4 linked regions of the Homo sapiens genome follow. The protein of the gene in region 1 purifies or fractionates together with the protein of each later gene. This does not show direct contact. Each region holds a gene or a part of one and is shown on either strand. Other genes may lie near its edges.

Evidence for each region.
Region 2: the proteins of EFNA4 (region 1) and BZW2 purify together in Homo sapiens (affinity purification with mass spectrometry; one large-scale study listed by BioGRID and IntAct). This does not show direct contact.
Region 3: the proteins of EFNA4 (region 1) and DYM purify together in Homo sapiens (affinity purification with mass spectrometry; one large-scale study listed by BioGRID and IntAct). This does not show direct contact.
Region 4: the proteins of EFNA4 (region 1) and SCAF1 purify together in Homo sapiens (affinity purification with mass spectrometry, with the first as the bait; one study listed by BioGRID). This does not show direct contact.

What each region holds. Positions count from the first base shown.
Region 1 is NC_000001.11:155,062,260-155,066,539, reverse strand, and holds the start of EFNA4 (ephrin-A4 isoform a precursor), read right to left. Parts: upstream 2,801-4,280; 5' UTR 2,717-2,800; coding exon 2,604-2,716; exon of another isoform or gene 2,549-2,603; intron 2,099-2,548; exon of another isoform or gene 1,980-2,098; intron 1-1,979. Other genes in the region: EFNA4-EFNA3 protein precursor, read right to left, coding at 2,604-2,716; ADAM15 (disintegrin and metalloproteinase domain-containing protein 15 isoform 6 preproprotein), read right to left, coding at 4,038-4,080, 4,171-4,280. UniProt on the Homo sapiens protein: Cell surface GPI-bound ligand for Eph receptors, a family of receptor tyrosine kinases which are crucial for migration, repulsion and adhesion during neuronal, vascular and epithelial development.
Region 2 is NC_000007.14:16,701,681-16,705,180, reverse strand, and holds part of BZW2 (eIF5-mimic protein 1), read right to left. Parts: intron 635-3,500; coding exon 512-634; intron 1-511. UniProt on the Homo sapiens protein: Translation initiation regulator which represses non-AUG initiated translation and repeat-associated non-AUG (RAN) initiated translation by acting as a competitive inhibitor of eukaryotic translation initiation factor 5 (EIF5) function.
Region 3 is NC_000018.10:49,450,646-49,454,145, forward strand, and holds part of DYM (dymeclin), read right to left. Parts: intron 1-3,500. UniProt on the Homo sapiens protein: Necessary for correct organization of Golgi apparatus. Involved in bone development.
Region 4 is NC_000019.10:49,645,209-49,648,708, reverse strand, and holds part of SCAF1 (splicing factor, arginine/serine-rich 19), read right to left. Parts: intron 3,356-3,500; coding exon 3,298-3,355; intron 2,602-3,297; coding exon 2,507-2,601; intron 2,216-2,506; exon of another isoform or gene 2,184-2,215; coding exon 2,083-2,183; intron 1,995-2,082; coding exon 1,879-1,994; intron 1-1,878.

The DNA.
Region 1 (4,280 bases):
GAGATGATCGATTCACAGGTTCCGAGAGGCTAAGACCTGCAGTGCCCATAACCACACAGCTTAGATGTGAGAAGGAGGGTCACCACACCCTGTCCTACAGGCTGGAGCTGCCACACACCTCTCTAGCTCCAGTGCCCAACACTCAATGTGGTATAGCACCAGGCTTGATCAATGTCAGGTGGATGGATGCTGTGAAGAAGCTGGGCAGAGAGGCAGGAGGTACAGTTGCACACAGTGCAGCTGCAGACACAGAGGTGGAAACAGGGGTTGGGAAAGGTCTCCTCAAACAGATATAAAGTGAGGAACACTGTCCTTTAGACTGACTTCAACCCAAGGGTGAAAAGAATGTCACGGTAAAAAAAGAATGAGGGAGGCCAGGTGTGGTGGCTCACATCTGAATCCCAGCACTTTGGGAGGCCGAGGTGGGAGGATCGCTTGAGGCCAGGAGTTCAAGACCAGCCTGGGCAACATGGTGAGACTGTCTCTACCATAAATAAATAAATAGGCTGGGCGCGGTGGCTCACGCTTGTAATCCCAGCACTTTGGGAGGCTGAGGCGGGCGGATCATGAGGTCAGGAGATCAAGACCATCCTGGCTAACACGGTGAAACCCCGTCTCTACTAAGAATATAAAAAGAAAACTAGCCGGGCGTGGTGGCGGGCACCTGTAGTCCCAGCTACTTGGGAGGTTGAGGCAGGAGAATGGCGTGAACCCGGGAGGCGGAGCTTGCAGTGAGCCGAGATTGCGCCACTGCACTCCAGCCTGGGAGACAGAGCGAGACTCCATCTCAAAAAATAAATAAATAAATAAATAAATAAATAAATAAATAAATAAATAAAGGCCATGAGTGGTGGTGCACTCCTGTAGTCCCAGCTACTTGGGAGGCTGAGGCGGGAGGATCCTTAGAGTCCGCAAGTTCCTGTAGTGAGCTATTATGCCACCGCACTACAGCCTGGGTGACAGAGCAAGACCCTGTCTCTAAATTCTAAAAATTAAAAAAAAAAAAAAAAAAAGAATGAGGGAGTGGGTGCTAGGTGCCTCCCTTTTTTGGCCAGGAGGAGCAAGTGCCAGGCATGGGGGGAGTCCACATACTACCCAGTCTTCAGTCTTCTCAGGACTCCCTTCCCCACCTCTTGGGAGCTGCCTGGGGAAGCCAGCACAGGTGGGAAGGGCTGGAAGGGGCTGCTCCCCACAGTACTGAATGCTGCATGAACCACCCCCCATACCACAAACACAGCGAAGCATGACTTAGGAAAAGCCTCCAGTGGGTGGTCCAAGGACGACCTGTATCAGTTCTGATTAGAAATGAAGATTCCTGGGCTCAGCCAGCCCAGACTTACTAGAACGCAAGCTGAGCAAGGACAGGGCCTTGGTAAGTTTTGTTCTACTGCATCCCCCGTGCCTGGAAAAGTGCCCAGCACAGGACAGTGTTCAATAAATATTTGTGGATTGAATGAATGAGCCAGAAACCTTAAGATTGGGGGGTGAGAAACCTGAATTTTTAACAGGTCCTCCAAGTGATTCAGAAGCTTTGGTCTGTGACAGAGATAGAGAATTCAGAGTCCAAGGACAACAAAAGCTCTTATCACTTGTTATTGGTATTGTAATGACCTGTCTTTATGCAGGCTCTCCTGCCTGCGCCTGTTCTCCAGAGAGTCTGTGGAATCCCAGAGGGCAGGGTCTTGATCTTCTCATCTATATAGTTAATCCCCTGCAACCTAGCACAGGGCCGGGCACACACAGTATGTGTTTAATAAATAAATGTTAGTGAGTGAAGAAATGAATAGTCACAGATTGTCTCAAGTAGAAAATCAGAAAGAAAAACAGATAGGAAATAGGAGAGGCAGGGAGACTTGGGGAGGGGGATGGAAACAGTAAAATATACTAAGGTTCAAAGGCAGGCAGCTCAGGAGAGAGAAAGAAATAATAGTTTATATCTGTACAGCCTGAGCCTCTTTCACATACATGACCTCACTTACCCTGCCAGACTTCCCAGGGTACTAGGTATTATTAGCCCATTATACAGGTGAGATAAATGAGGTTAGGAAGGTCACGAGACTTGCCCAGAGGTGATTCGGCTAGAAGGGCAGGGCTGACACTGGAAAGAAACAGAAGGACCAATAAAGACAGAGATGAAAGCAGAGATAGCAAATGAGATCAGGAGACAGAGTGAGAGCCAGAGGTGAGACCCAGCGGGCAGGAGAGTAACCCACGCTCTTTCATAAGAGTAAAGCCCCCTCCCTCGCTCTCAAGTTCGTCAGCCACAGCTCCAGCCTGCGGGAGGCTGGGGATCGCCAGGAGAGCAGCGAGGGGGGCGGAGCCCGGAGTGCGGGCAAAGGCCCCCCCAGCTCCATGCTCCAAGACCCCCTAGACAACCCTTGGGGCTGGGGTCTTCTGCCTGCCCCCCAACACATGCGGGCTGTGGGGAGACCCAGGGCGCGCCTCGCCCCTCGCCCCTCCCCCCTCCCCCGCCGGCTCAAACAAAGGAGCCCCGGCGCGCGGCCAGGCTCAGGCGGCGCCGCGCAAAGAGCGGGTGGCGGGCGCGCGCAAAGCCCGGGAGCGCGCAGACTTGGCTGTGCGCTCGCCCGGTTCGGCCCGGCTACCTGGGGTTACTGGAGTTCCAGTAGACTACGTGGCGGAGGCTGGAGCCCCCGCGCAGAGGGGAGCCGAGGAACGCGGCCCAGAGGACAGTCCGCAGCAGGGGCAGCAGCCGCATCGCCCCCGAGGTCCGGTTTGGTCTGGCCTGGCAGGTCCCGGCCCGCTTCACAGTCGAGGAGAGAAAGGTACAAAGTGAAGAGGGAAGTTGCGGAAAGGGGAGTGGGGTACGGAGATTCACTGACCCCGCCCCTGAATAACTTTCCGCCAATGGGAGCGCGTCTCCTCCTCTCCACCCAGCGCCAACTCCAGTTAACCCTCTGTGCACCGCAGCGCGCGCCAGGTTCGCCAAAGCTTCCACTGAGGCTGCACCGCACTGCGAGGGGGCGGGAAGGAAGGACGTATTCCAACAGCAGTATTTTTAGGGAGGTCATCTCTTTCGTGTCTGCTTTAGTGCAGGGTAGACTGCCTTATTAGAAGTTTGGAAGATTTTAAATAAGGGTACATAACCTTTGCCCAGATAGGGGAAAGTGAGGCGCGGGCGAGGATCCATGAAGCCTGTCCAACCACCTTCATGCACTGCCCCGTTTTCTTTGCACATCTAGGGACAGTGCAAGCGGAAGGGACAACACAGCTCTGGGACCACCTTCCCTAAAGAGCCTTAGGTGGCGCGCTAGATGCTCACTTTAGGATTGGCGTCTGTCCCTTGCCGCTCCACACCTTCGTTCCGGGCTGGGGGCCCACGCGGCCCCAGTCCCTAAGACGAAGTAATGAGGTGGTTGCGGCCTGTACAAAGCACCTTTGTTCCCGATCCCTCAGGTGGCGGCGGCGGAGGGGGAGGAGGCAGGTGCGCGGCCTTGGGATCGTGGGAGCAGCCGCCGCCCCGCTCCGCCCTGGCTCCTGGGCTCTGGGAGCATCAGCCAGATCCACTTTTCCCAGCCAATGGTCAGAGTGGGGACGGCAGGTCCAACAGCTTGACAGATTGCGCCGAAAGCCACCCCAGTCTGGGCAGAGGGAAGCTGCGAGCATCCCGGGGACACACGCCGACCCTTTCTGGTACTCCCGCCCCACACAGCCCGCCCTCGTCTGAGGCGGCAGCGTCTTCTGGCGGCCAAACCTGGAACCGCAGCAGGAGCGACCCGGGTTCTAGAAGCAGACAAACTCTGGGGAACGCTCCCAAGATGTCACGTTTATTGCAACTGAGCAGAGACAGGCTGTGCGGACCTTCCTCAATCCCGTCCAACCCCCAGCCCCTCCCCAAGCCCCCGCTGCAACTACGCCGGCAGGTCCGCAGAGTGTTGCTTGACAGCGCGTGGCGGTGCCCGGAGTCTTAAGACACCGCCAGTCTCTGGCGCCTTCAGTCATGGTAGGGGACTCCAGAGGGCACGCCCGCCTCTTGAAGCCCTAAGTCCGGCTTGGAGGCAGCGGAACCTCCGGAGAGGTCAGAGGTAGAGCGAGGACACTGTCGGAGGCGGTGGCGCTGGTCTGGATTGCGGGAAGCCAAGAAAAAAGAGTCAGAGGCCCCTTTCCCCCAGGTCACTCGCCCCGCCCACCCATGCCCAGGGCTCCTCCTACCTGGAGGGTACCACTAGGGGCGGGATTCCAGCCCCTGGGCCGGGCAGGTCACCCGATGGGCACCGGCCCTGGGGGTCGGCAGGCAGTGGCTTCCTTGGGGGTGGGGGCTT
Region 2 (3,500 bases), on another chromosome or scaffold:
TTCACTATGTTGGCCAGCCTGCTCTCAAACTCCTGACCTCAGGTGATCCACCCACCTCTGCTTCCCAAAGTGCTGGGATTACAGGTGTGAGCCACCACACCTGGCCTGAATTCACTCTTACTCATTATTATCCTTCCACTTTATATTTCCATTATTTAAAATTGCCAGTTAATTGGTAAAGGTGTCATAAAAATCTATAGAATTCCATAATGCGTGATTAAGCTAAATGTATTTTTCTCCTTTCACATCTACTAATCATTTCTTCCTTATTGTCCTCCATCAGAGTGGATAATTTAAGCATTTCATTTCTTTCTTTGTTTTTACATGTAGAGATTTTTATTGCCGTGATTTCAGAAAGGAAAGCTAAGATGTTGGCAAAATGTTTGATACGAAAGATAACTCTAGAATTTTAGTTTTAGAAAATCAAGTAAAATCTGTGGAAGAGGTAAATATTTTGACATATAATGAGACAGTGTTTAAAGGTCATCAATGTTTGTAAACAGAATCATACCTTCTTCTGCATTTTGTAACCACTCAACAAATTTCTTCATCTGGTCAAGAAAAACACTTTTGCCTTTAGCAACATGTGCTTCCTTATACCATTTCAGTATTGCTTCTTCGCTCAGAACATCAGCTGCAATTTTAAATCAAAGATTTCAAAGTTACTATACAAATGTCATGTTTCAAAACAACTTCATGTATTACAGTTTAATAGAAAGCAATCATTTTAAATATAAAGCATTCTGTTACTTATCAGAAGAGAGGAACCAAGTTGATTTTCATGTAGCATAGTGCCATATTTTGATAGCTTACTAAAGGCTTAAGTACTGATGATGATGATATACATCTTCTTAGGCATGATATAATGCAAGCCTATAGCTCACTACTAGGACTTGGAAATCTCTCACAGTGCTAATTTGCTGGTAGGAAATAGAATTGTTTTGTAATTTTGCAAATGAACCAGCAATTCCAGCATTTTAGAACATTTTGGGTCCTGCCAAGTTCAACCATATCTTGATTAAAGAGTAACCTCAAATGACCAGTGTCTTTTAAGGAGATTGGGATTTTCTTTTTTTAGGAGAAAAATGACAAAGGAAAAAAATGTAGATAGTATGCAATAATGATGTTAGCAATTAGATATAAAGAGGAACTTCTGGGCTATGTTGTGGGAGTAATACACACCTAAACTGAAGTTCTACACTTTCTCCATCACTAAATCACGACTTATTTTCCCACAGTATATCCCAAATTACAAGAGTAATATTTTTCCTCTACTACATTAAGACAAAATAGACATATTAGCTAATTTCCTACAGGTTTCTAAAAACAACAAAAAATGTTAACTATCTTTTGTCTAAAACTCTAAATTCCACAAATGTGCCTTGATATTCTCAACATAACATTAATTGAGAGTATTTAATGTTAAGAATAGGAAGGAGAATATAAAAATAAGTGTACATAGTCTCCCAATGTTCTAATGGGTTGTTCTAACATTCTTCTAATGTTCCAATGTTCTAATGGGTTGTTGTTTGGGAATCTGTAGTGGGAAACGAGACAGAAAACAGGTACAAAGCATTTATTATTGTCCCCGAGATGTGCTCAATTCATTACAAATACTGATAAAGCCATATAATGTTAATAAATTACTTTAATGATATCTTTTCAGTTAAAATATAATTTCAACTTATGAAAATGACAGAAACAATTTAATATTGTTTTCATTTAAAACATCACTGGTAGTTTCATAACAAAAACATTGGCTTTTTTTATTTTTAAAGAATTATTGGCTCTTGGAAAATGTTCTTGAATTAAATTGAAGAGGCTGAGCTGACTAAAATGAACATGATTTGTTTATGAAAATAAAAGGTTTTTTAAAAAAACATGTTTATTATCATCACTAAAAACATTACATTTTGCAAAGGAAGCAAGAAGTCTGGATTTACTTATAGAGCCTGGATGTAAGAGCTACAATCAGGGGTCCTGTAGACTTATTCTTAGCTTCTAGTTATTTTAGCTCTTTGTTTCCAGCTCTCCACTGAGATAAAAGAAATTTCTACCAGCCATCAGAGCCTAATTGTCATAGAGCTGAGGAGCAGGCAGTTGTGTCCCGAGGAAGTGACCTGTTATTGTGTAAGACTGCCTTGCAGAGACTTTTAAAGAACATTAACAGGGATTTTAAAAGACCCTTTTATATAACTTGTAAATTATCTTTAAGATGCTTATGATTAGATCAGTAATTATCAAACTGTTTGGATCATGTCTTCCTGCCTGTAGGATAATTTTGAGCATATACACCCAACATATGTATATTTTTGAGTTTATAAATTATATTCATGCACTATTAAACTATCATTATTAATGTTCTGCACAAACAATATAATTTTAAACTGTGACAAACATGGAAAGGAGAATTGTTTTTTTTCTCCACACCTTAATGAATTGAGGATGATACAAAGTACAGGTTGGAAAGCTGATGTAGACTGCAGTTTAGTGATACTATTTGTCTGAGCTTTCCTTTTGAAGGTTGAGAGCACATTCCTGTGTTTTATTGCCTCACAGAGGCTGAAGGAGACCATGCAACTACTAAAATGCTTGTCAATGTCAGTGCTTGTGAAAAGCACACTAAATGATAGGTAAAACCTATCAAATGCATTGTTTATTGCAAATCTTGTGCCTTGATATTCTTAAGTTACCATTAATTGAGAATATTTAATGTTAAGAATAGGAAGGAGAATTTAAAATAAGTCTACATATTAACGGCGCAATGTGGAGTTCTTAGAAGAACCCAGGGTAGTAACAACTACTTGCTGAAAGATCAAACTTCTAGTACCAGAGAATTATTAATTAAAAGCTACTGAAGTATCTACACAGAGCACCATATGAGGCAAAGTATGAACATCGAAGAGTTTAAGAAGAAATTAAACTTCTATTTAGTGAAAGGAAAGGTCTGAAAAGGAAGGAACTCCTTGAGGGACAAAGAATTCAGACAATTTTTTCCCTCACTAAGGATAAAGTAGGGAAAAGAGTTAATTAAAACTGAGAAACCATTTTTGGTGGGATATTTCATAAATGCCTATTAGGAATATAGAATAACAGTAAAAGACAGTAAGAAAGGAAGACATTGTATGATGGCACATAGAGACTGGAATATATGTTTTCCCCTTCTATCTGGCCAACTTCTTCATAATGTCTGGTGAGATACATGTACCTTGAGAGCCTTCACTTCTCCCCCTCCAAATTACCTTTAACAAGTTAGGTGCCCTCCCTCTGTGGTCCTATCCCTTCTGACACCCTCTGTGTGAGGCTTATTTCAGCAATTGACATGGTGAGTGTAATTCTTTGTTTTCTTCTACATCCTGAAATTCAGGAAGTCAGGGACTATATTTTGTTCATCTCATTTCCAGCATTTAATGAAAGACCTGCCCTATAGTATCGATTCAACACACGTTTAAGGAATAAATTTGTTAACTTGATGAGAAAAAATAAATATTTCTCAATTT
Region 3 (3,500 bases), on another chromosome or scaffold:
TTTAGTCACATTAGAATTGCCAAAACGATGTCCAATCTTCTTTAAGTTATATTTTGGTGAATAATACTAATATATGTTCCAAAATTGTATGGGATTTCTAAAATTCTAATGTCTAAGTATATACTATCAATCATAATTAAGGTTAACTAAACTTTTTCCGTCATGTTTTTAACTGTAACCTGGAAATTTTGTCATGCACAGACAATTGTTGTTTTGCTTTGTTCCTTCTGAAAAGACAGTTTATAATCAAGCTATATTAAGGACTTTCAACAGGTGTCCTCAAATGCAGGTTTTTAACAGCTTTGAAGATTGTAACATTGGAAGAGAGAAAGAACGTACAGGACTCATGAACTGAAATGTTCACAAATATCAAGCAAAACAAGAATTGACTAAATGGACTACACTCAGAAAGCTAAAGCAATCTTTTTGACTTTTGCTTGGAATATTGCTGATCCTTGGTTTGTTTTTCAGAGTCAAGGAAACTTATTTTGAACTATTTACAGCCTTTAATAATTGAGTAAGGTATACTCCTGTGAACAAAACTTGAAGCATGATTGTTTCTCTCTGCCTGGTTCCTCTAATCTGTGAGAACTCTTAACTTATGGCAATATAGTTGTTTGCATCAGTGAAATAAGAATCCATTTTTCTTTTTCAACAGGACACAAATGGAAAAACTGGCTATTTTATCAAGGCTTTGACTGGAAGTGTATGCTTCCCTTTAAGGAGTCAACCTCCACTTGCAGAGCTGAAAAAGCCCCATGGGAAGAACTGGCCTCATACCTTGTCTACACAGTCCCCGCACAGGGTTCCTAACCTTTGGTCAGTAAAGAATGTCACTTTCTAACAGGTCCAGGAGCTCCAAGTTTATCTTGGGACCTTAAGAGAAAAGGATCACCCAACTCACAGGTATTTGAAGATACAAACCCATGCTGGGCTCAGCTTTAAGAAGTCTTATCTGAGATTTCTTGTGGAACAGAGTTCCATCGAAGCCAATCCAAAAGGACTATGCAGAAATAATTACTCTTGCTGAACTTTATGCAAATAACAAGGCCAAATATAAGACTAAGGTTTATTCTACAAACAACACGGTCCTATCATAATTTGTTTTTACCAAAATCAGGACTAGAGAGAGAAAATATGCTCCAAAGCTTATCATACATTTGTCATTAAATCCTAGTCACATTAATTGTTTTTAAGTTGTGTGCCTACATTTTAGACTAACACTGCTTATTCCTGTGAATCAAGTGGTGATCTCCTGAAGCTTACAAGAAACAAAAAGAGATGGGTAACACAAAAATCTGGATACCTTGGCAAATAAAATTTTAGATGGAAAGTATCTACTACACCACACTTGTGGGAATTGCTATACTCACTCTACTATTTGCAGTAGGGTTATACATGGCAGTGTGTCTGGAATTGGTGGATTCTTGGTCTCATTGACTTCAAGAATGAAGCCACAGACCCTCACAGTGAGTGTTACAGTTCTTCAAGGCGGCATGTCCAGAGTTTGTTCCTTCTGATGTTCGGATGTGTTCGGAGTTTCTTCCTTCTGGTGGGTTCGTGCTCTCGCTGGCTTAGGAGTGAAGCGGCAGACCTTCGCGGTGAGTGTTACAGCTCATAAAGGCAGTGTGGACCCAAAGAGTGAGCAGCAGCAAGATTTATTGCAAAGAGTGAAAGAACAAAGCTCCCGCAGTGTGGAAGGGGACCTGAGCGGGTTGCCATTGCTGGTTCAGGCAGCCTGCTTTTATTCCCTTATCTGGCCCCACCCACATCCTGCTGATTTGGTCCATTTTACAGAGAGCTGATTGGTCTGTTTTGACAGGGTGCTGATTGGTGCGTTTACAATCCCTGAGCTAGATATAAAGATTCTCCAAGTCCCCACCAGATTAGCTAGATACAGAGTGCTGATTGGTGCATTTACAAACCTTGAGCTAGACACAGAGTGCTGACTGGCGTATCTACAATCCCTCAGCTAGACATAAAGGTTCTCCAAGTCACTGCCGTGGGCTCCTGCGTGGCCTGAGCCTCCCTGACGAGCGCCGCTCCCTGCTCCCCAGCGCCTGGTCCCATCAACCGCCCAAGGGCTGAGGAGTGCAGGCGCACAGCGCGGGACTGGCAGGCAGCTCTGCCTGCGGCCCTGGTGCAGGATCCACCAGGTGAAGCCAGCTGGGCTCCTGAGTCTAGTGGGGACTTGGAGAACCTTTATGTCTAGCTAAGGGATTGCAGATACACCAATCAGCACTCTGTGTCTAGCTCAAGGTTTGTGAACAGACCAATCAGCACCCTGTGTCTAGGCTCAGGGTTTGAGGATGCACCAATCGGCACTCTGTATCTAGCTAATCTGGTGGGGACTTGGAGAATCTTTATGTCTAGCTAAGGGATTGTAAATACACCAATCAGCACTCTGTGTCTAGCTCAAGGTTTGTAAATGTACCAATCCACACCCTGTGTCTAGCTCAAGGTTTGTAAATGCACCAATCAGCACTCTGTATCTAGCTCAGGGTTTGTAAATATACCAATCAGTACTCTGTATCTAGCTAATCTAGGGGGGACTTGGAGAACTTTTGTGTCGAGCTCAGGGATTGTACACGCACCAATCAGCACCCTGTAAAATGGACCAATCAGCAGGATGTGGGTGGGGCCAGATAAGGGAATAAAAGCAGGCTGCCCCAACCAGCAGTGGCAACCGGCTCAGGTCCCCTTCCACACTGCGGGAGCTTTGTTCTTTCGCTCTTTGCAATAAATCTTGTTGCTGCTCACTCTTTGGGTCCACACTGCCTTTATGAGCTGTAACACTCACTGCGAAGGTCTGCAGCTTCACTCCTGAAGCCAGCGAGAGCACGAACCCACCAGAAGGAAGAAACTCCGAACACATCCGAAAATCAGAAGGAACAAACTCCACACACGCCGCCTTTAAGAACTGTAACACTCACCGTGAGGGTCCGTGGCTTCATTCTTGAAGTCAATGAGACCAAGAACCCACCAATTCTGGACACAATAGCACCTTCTAACTGAAATACTGGAAAGAGAGTTTTCATTGTTGTAGAATTTGCTTAATTATTATCCTGATAGCAGGGATAATTACCAACAAAAAGGAAGCACGAAAGTTTTACTAACACCGAGTTTGCTAGAACTTCTTATTGGGTTTGGTAATATGTCACACCCTGGCTATGCAAAGAAGGTTATAAAGGAAAGAGATTTTCTGTGGAAGTCATGAAGGGATTGATAACTGCAGGAAAGATCTAGCCAAGGTTAACACTAAAGTTACTCCAGCCACCCAAATCCAATGCCACTTATCCTAAAAGGAATGTTACTTTTATATTAACATTTCAACAACATCTGGTGGAGGCAAACCAGTGTTACAACCCATCAGAATAGCAACAGAATCAAACTCCAAATGATGCTGCAGACAGAACCACACACGGACATGCCTTTCTTCCAAGGACCCTTAGATTGACCCCAGGAGGAGCCCTAGCTGCTGATCCCCACATGATGCCCCT
Region 4 (3,500 bases), on another chromosome or scaffold:
GAGCCACCGTGCCCAGCCCTACAGCTTCTGATTTTAAAGAAATTGAAACACTTTTGTGGGCCCCTAAGAATGTCATAAGTCCTAGGCACCATATCACTGTACTTAATGGATAAATCATTTCCAGCTGTTAAAAAAAAAGGGGGGGGGGTGTGGCAGGCATGGTGGCTCATGCCTGTGATCTCAGCAGTTTGAGAGGCCAAGGCAGGAGGATTGCTTGAGCTCTGGAGTTTAAGACCAGCCTGCGCAACATATCAAGACCTCATCTCTATTAAAAATTTTAAAAAAATAAAAAATAAAGGCTGGGCGTGGTGGCTCACGCCCATAATCCCAGCAGTTTGGGAGGTTGAGGCAGGCGGATCACTTCAGGTCAGGAGTTTGAGACCAGCCTGGCCAACACAGTGAAACCCTACCTCTACTAAAAATACAAAAATTAGCTCAATGTGGTGGCATGCGCACCTATAATCCCTGCTACTCAGGAGGCTGAGGCAGGAGAGAATCACTTGAACCCGGGAGACGGAGGTTGCAGAGAGACTAGACCCCACTACTGCACTCCGGCCTAGGTGACACAGTAAGACTCCATCTCAAAAAAAGAAAAAAGAAAAAAAAAAACTAGCCAGGCATGGTGGCATGCACCTGTAGTCCCAGCTACTCCAGAGACTGAGACAACAGGATAACTTGAACCGGGGAATTTGAGGCTGCAGTGAGCTGTGACTGTGCCACTGCACTCTAGCCTGGGGGACGCAGTGAGACCCTGTCTCAAAAAAAACAAACAAGGTAGCAGGGCACAGTGGCTCACGCCTGTAATCCCAGCACTGTGGGAGGCTGAGGCGGGCGGATCACTTGAGGTCAAGAGATCAAGGCCATCCTGGCCAGCATGGTGAAACCCCATCTCTACTAAAACTACGAAAATTAGCTGGGTGTGGTGGCATGCACCTTGTAGTCCCAGCTACTCAGGAGGCTGAGGCAGGAGAATCGCTTGTACTCGGGAAGTGGAGGTTGCAGTGAGCTGAGATTATGCCACTGCACTCCAGCCTGGGCGACACAGCGAAACAAGGTAAACAAGGTAAACATGACCTGGCACAGAGTGGTGTGCCTGCTCTACCACAGAACTGGTGCTCACGGCTCACAGCTGGTGCCCATAGCTGACTGCACCTTCTTCTCCTCTCCCTCCAACCCCTCCTCCAAATACAGATGTTCACGTAGAAGGAAGGCCTAAACCCAGGGTTCTCAACAGAGTCCAGGGCTCAGCAGCATGTATTGTTTAAAATGAAAATTCCCAGGTCCCACCCCAGACCTGCAGAATCAGAACTCTTGGGAGTGGGCCCAGTGATGTGCATAGTAACAAGTCCTCCTTGCAACTGAGATGTGCGTTCGCGTTTGGTCTAAAGGGCTCACAGGGTTACCGTTGTGTGTGGGGTTGGAGGAAGAGATTCCTCCTTGGGCAGCGCACATCTCAGACATCAAAAACTTGGGCTTCAGACTCAGACACACCAGGGCTCAAGGCCCAGGCACCCCACGGAGCATCTGGCTGTGCGCCCTTGGGCAAGTGCCTGCCCTTTTTCAGGCTGTCTGCTTCTCTGAAGATAGAGATTCGAAGAGTCCCCCTCCTGGGGAGATGAACGCCCAGTGCAGTGACACTAATACTTAGCGTGCCGAAACCAGTTGTCACACACGCTGACCACTCCCACATAGCCCCAGCACATCAGTTTTTACTTTATGTACATCTGTATGCGCCTACAGCCTTAATCACGTCTAATACGAAGAGAAGGGAAAGGTTTTGTCTAAATAACATGATCACCGCTACCATCACTACCAAAAACAGCCGATCCCCACACAACTCCACGACCACCTGCCCAGCTCCGCCCTGGCCCCACATACCCGTTTTGCCCGTCCTCCAGGCCCTGAGACGGGGCAGCAGGCTGGGCACAGGCAGAGGGATGGGATCTCTGTCCCCGATTCGGACCTCAGCCACCAGCTCCAGCATGTCCTCACTTCTGCAAGGCGGAAGGGGTGGGTGAGCCTCAGGGGTGCTTCTGGCTCTCACGCTGAGGCCTCTCCCACTCCAGCTGCCCAGCTACTCACTCGCCAGGCCGCAGGTCCAGGCGGCTGGGAACCCAGGTATCCGGGGGATCCAGGACACTCACCAGCCCTGCGAGGAAGCTGTCCGTGGCCATGTCCAACACCTGGAAGAGGCCAGAGAGGCTCTACGCCGTCCCTGGTCACATGAAGACTGGCAAATCCTGCTTCCCCACTCCCTAACCTCTCAGGAACCCAGACATCTAAGATCCCCAAGAAAACTGAGGATCTAATTCCTATAGCCTGACTGCCATCAACACTCAAAGCTCAGGCCCACAGATCAGGCCCCCAGACTCTCCAACATTGCCCCTGGTCAGCATCGCAGAGCCAGGAGTCCAGGTCCCCAAACCCCATTCCCCCAGACTCAGGCCCCCATCCCTTCCTCCCTGATACCCGTGAGCCAGGCCCCCAGCCCCCTCTTCTTACTCACAGTAGCCGTGTCAGTGCCCCCTGATTCCTGGGAACGGGGCTCTGACCGTGGACTCCGGCAGCGCCGCCATCGAAGGCCATGACACCGAGAGCCATCTGGTGAGAGATTTGCATGGGGGATTGGACACAGGGGACTTGCTGCAGAGACTTGCGGGGTAGAGGAAAGAGGAGCTTGATCTAGTTCCTGACAGCGGAACCAGCCTCCCGCATGCTCTCCAGGCCTCCATGCGCCACCTCCCAGGAGGACTTCCCAGCACCCACTTCAGAGGCTGCGACGCTCAGCCATTCGTCCTCCTGTCTGCCCTCAGACACCTCAACCTGGCATTCAGGCCTTGCTGGGATCCAGTCCCCACAGACCTCTCCTGCCTCCCCCAACCCCACTCACACCCTCCTGCATGCCAGCCCCAAGGAAGCCCAGCGCAGCCCCTCGCCGCTGCACCCGTGCTGTAGGCCTGCTGCAGCTGATCAGGCTTCCCTCTAATCCTAGGTCCTTAGACTCTTCTAGGTCCTTAGAGAGCCGTTCACTGTCCCTGCTCGGGGAAGGTGCCCTGACCCGTCTCCCACCATGCTAGCTCAAGTGGGCCTCCTGCCCTCTCCCAGCACTGTGCCTGTCTCCCTTCCACTGCACACTAGGCCCTTCCAAGGCAGCTACAGGGTGTCTGCCCATTTTTGGCTCCCCATGCCAGCACAAGGGTGGCACCCAGGAGGCTTCAGAAAAGCTTGTATGAATGACATTAGGATAAAGAATGCAGAGAGGGGGCAGGGGCTAAAAGGAACCGGAAGCCGCCATACCTTTATCATTGGGCAGGTCCCCCTGCAGGGAGCTTCCCACAGCCTGCTGGATGGCTCGCTGGGGAAGGGGGGAAGAACCAAGCGTCAGAGGACCCAGGCAGATGCTTTGCAACCTCTGCCCCTTGGGAGACAGACATCCCAGACACTGACAGCTAGACTCAAGTGCTTCAAGGGAGCCAAGAGTCCAGCGCCCCTGCCTCAGG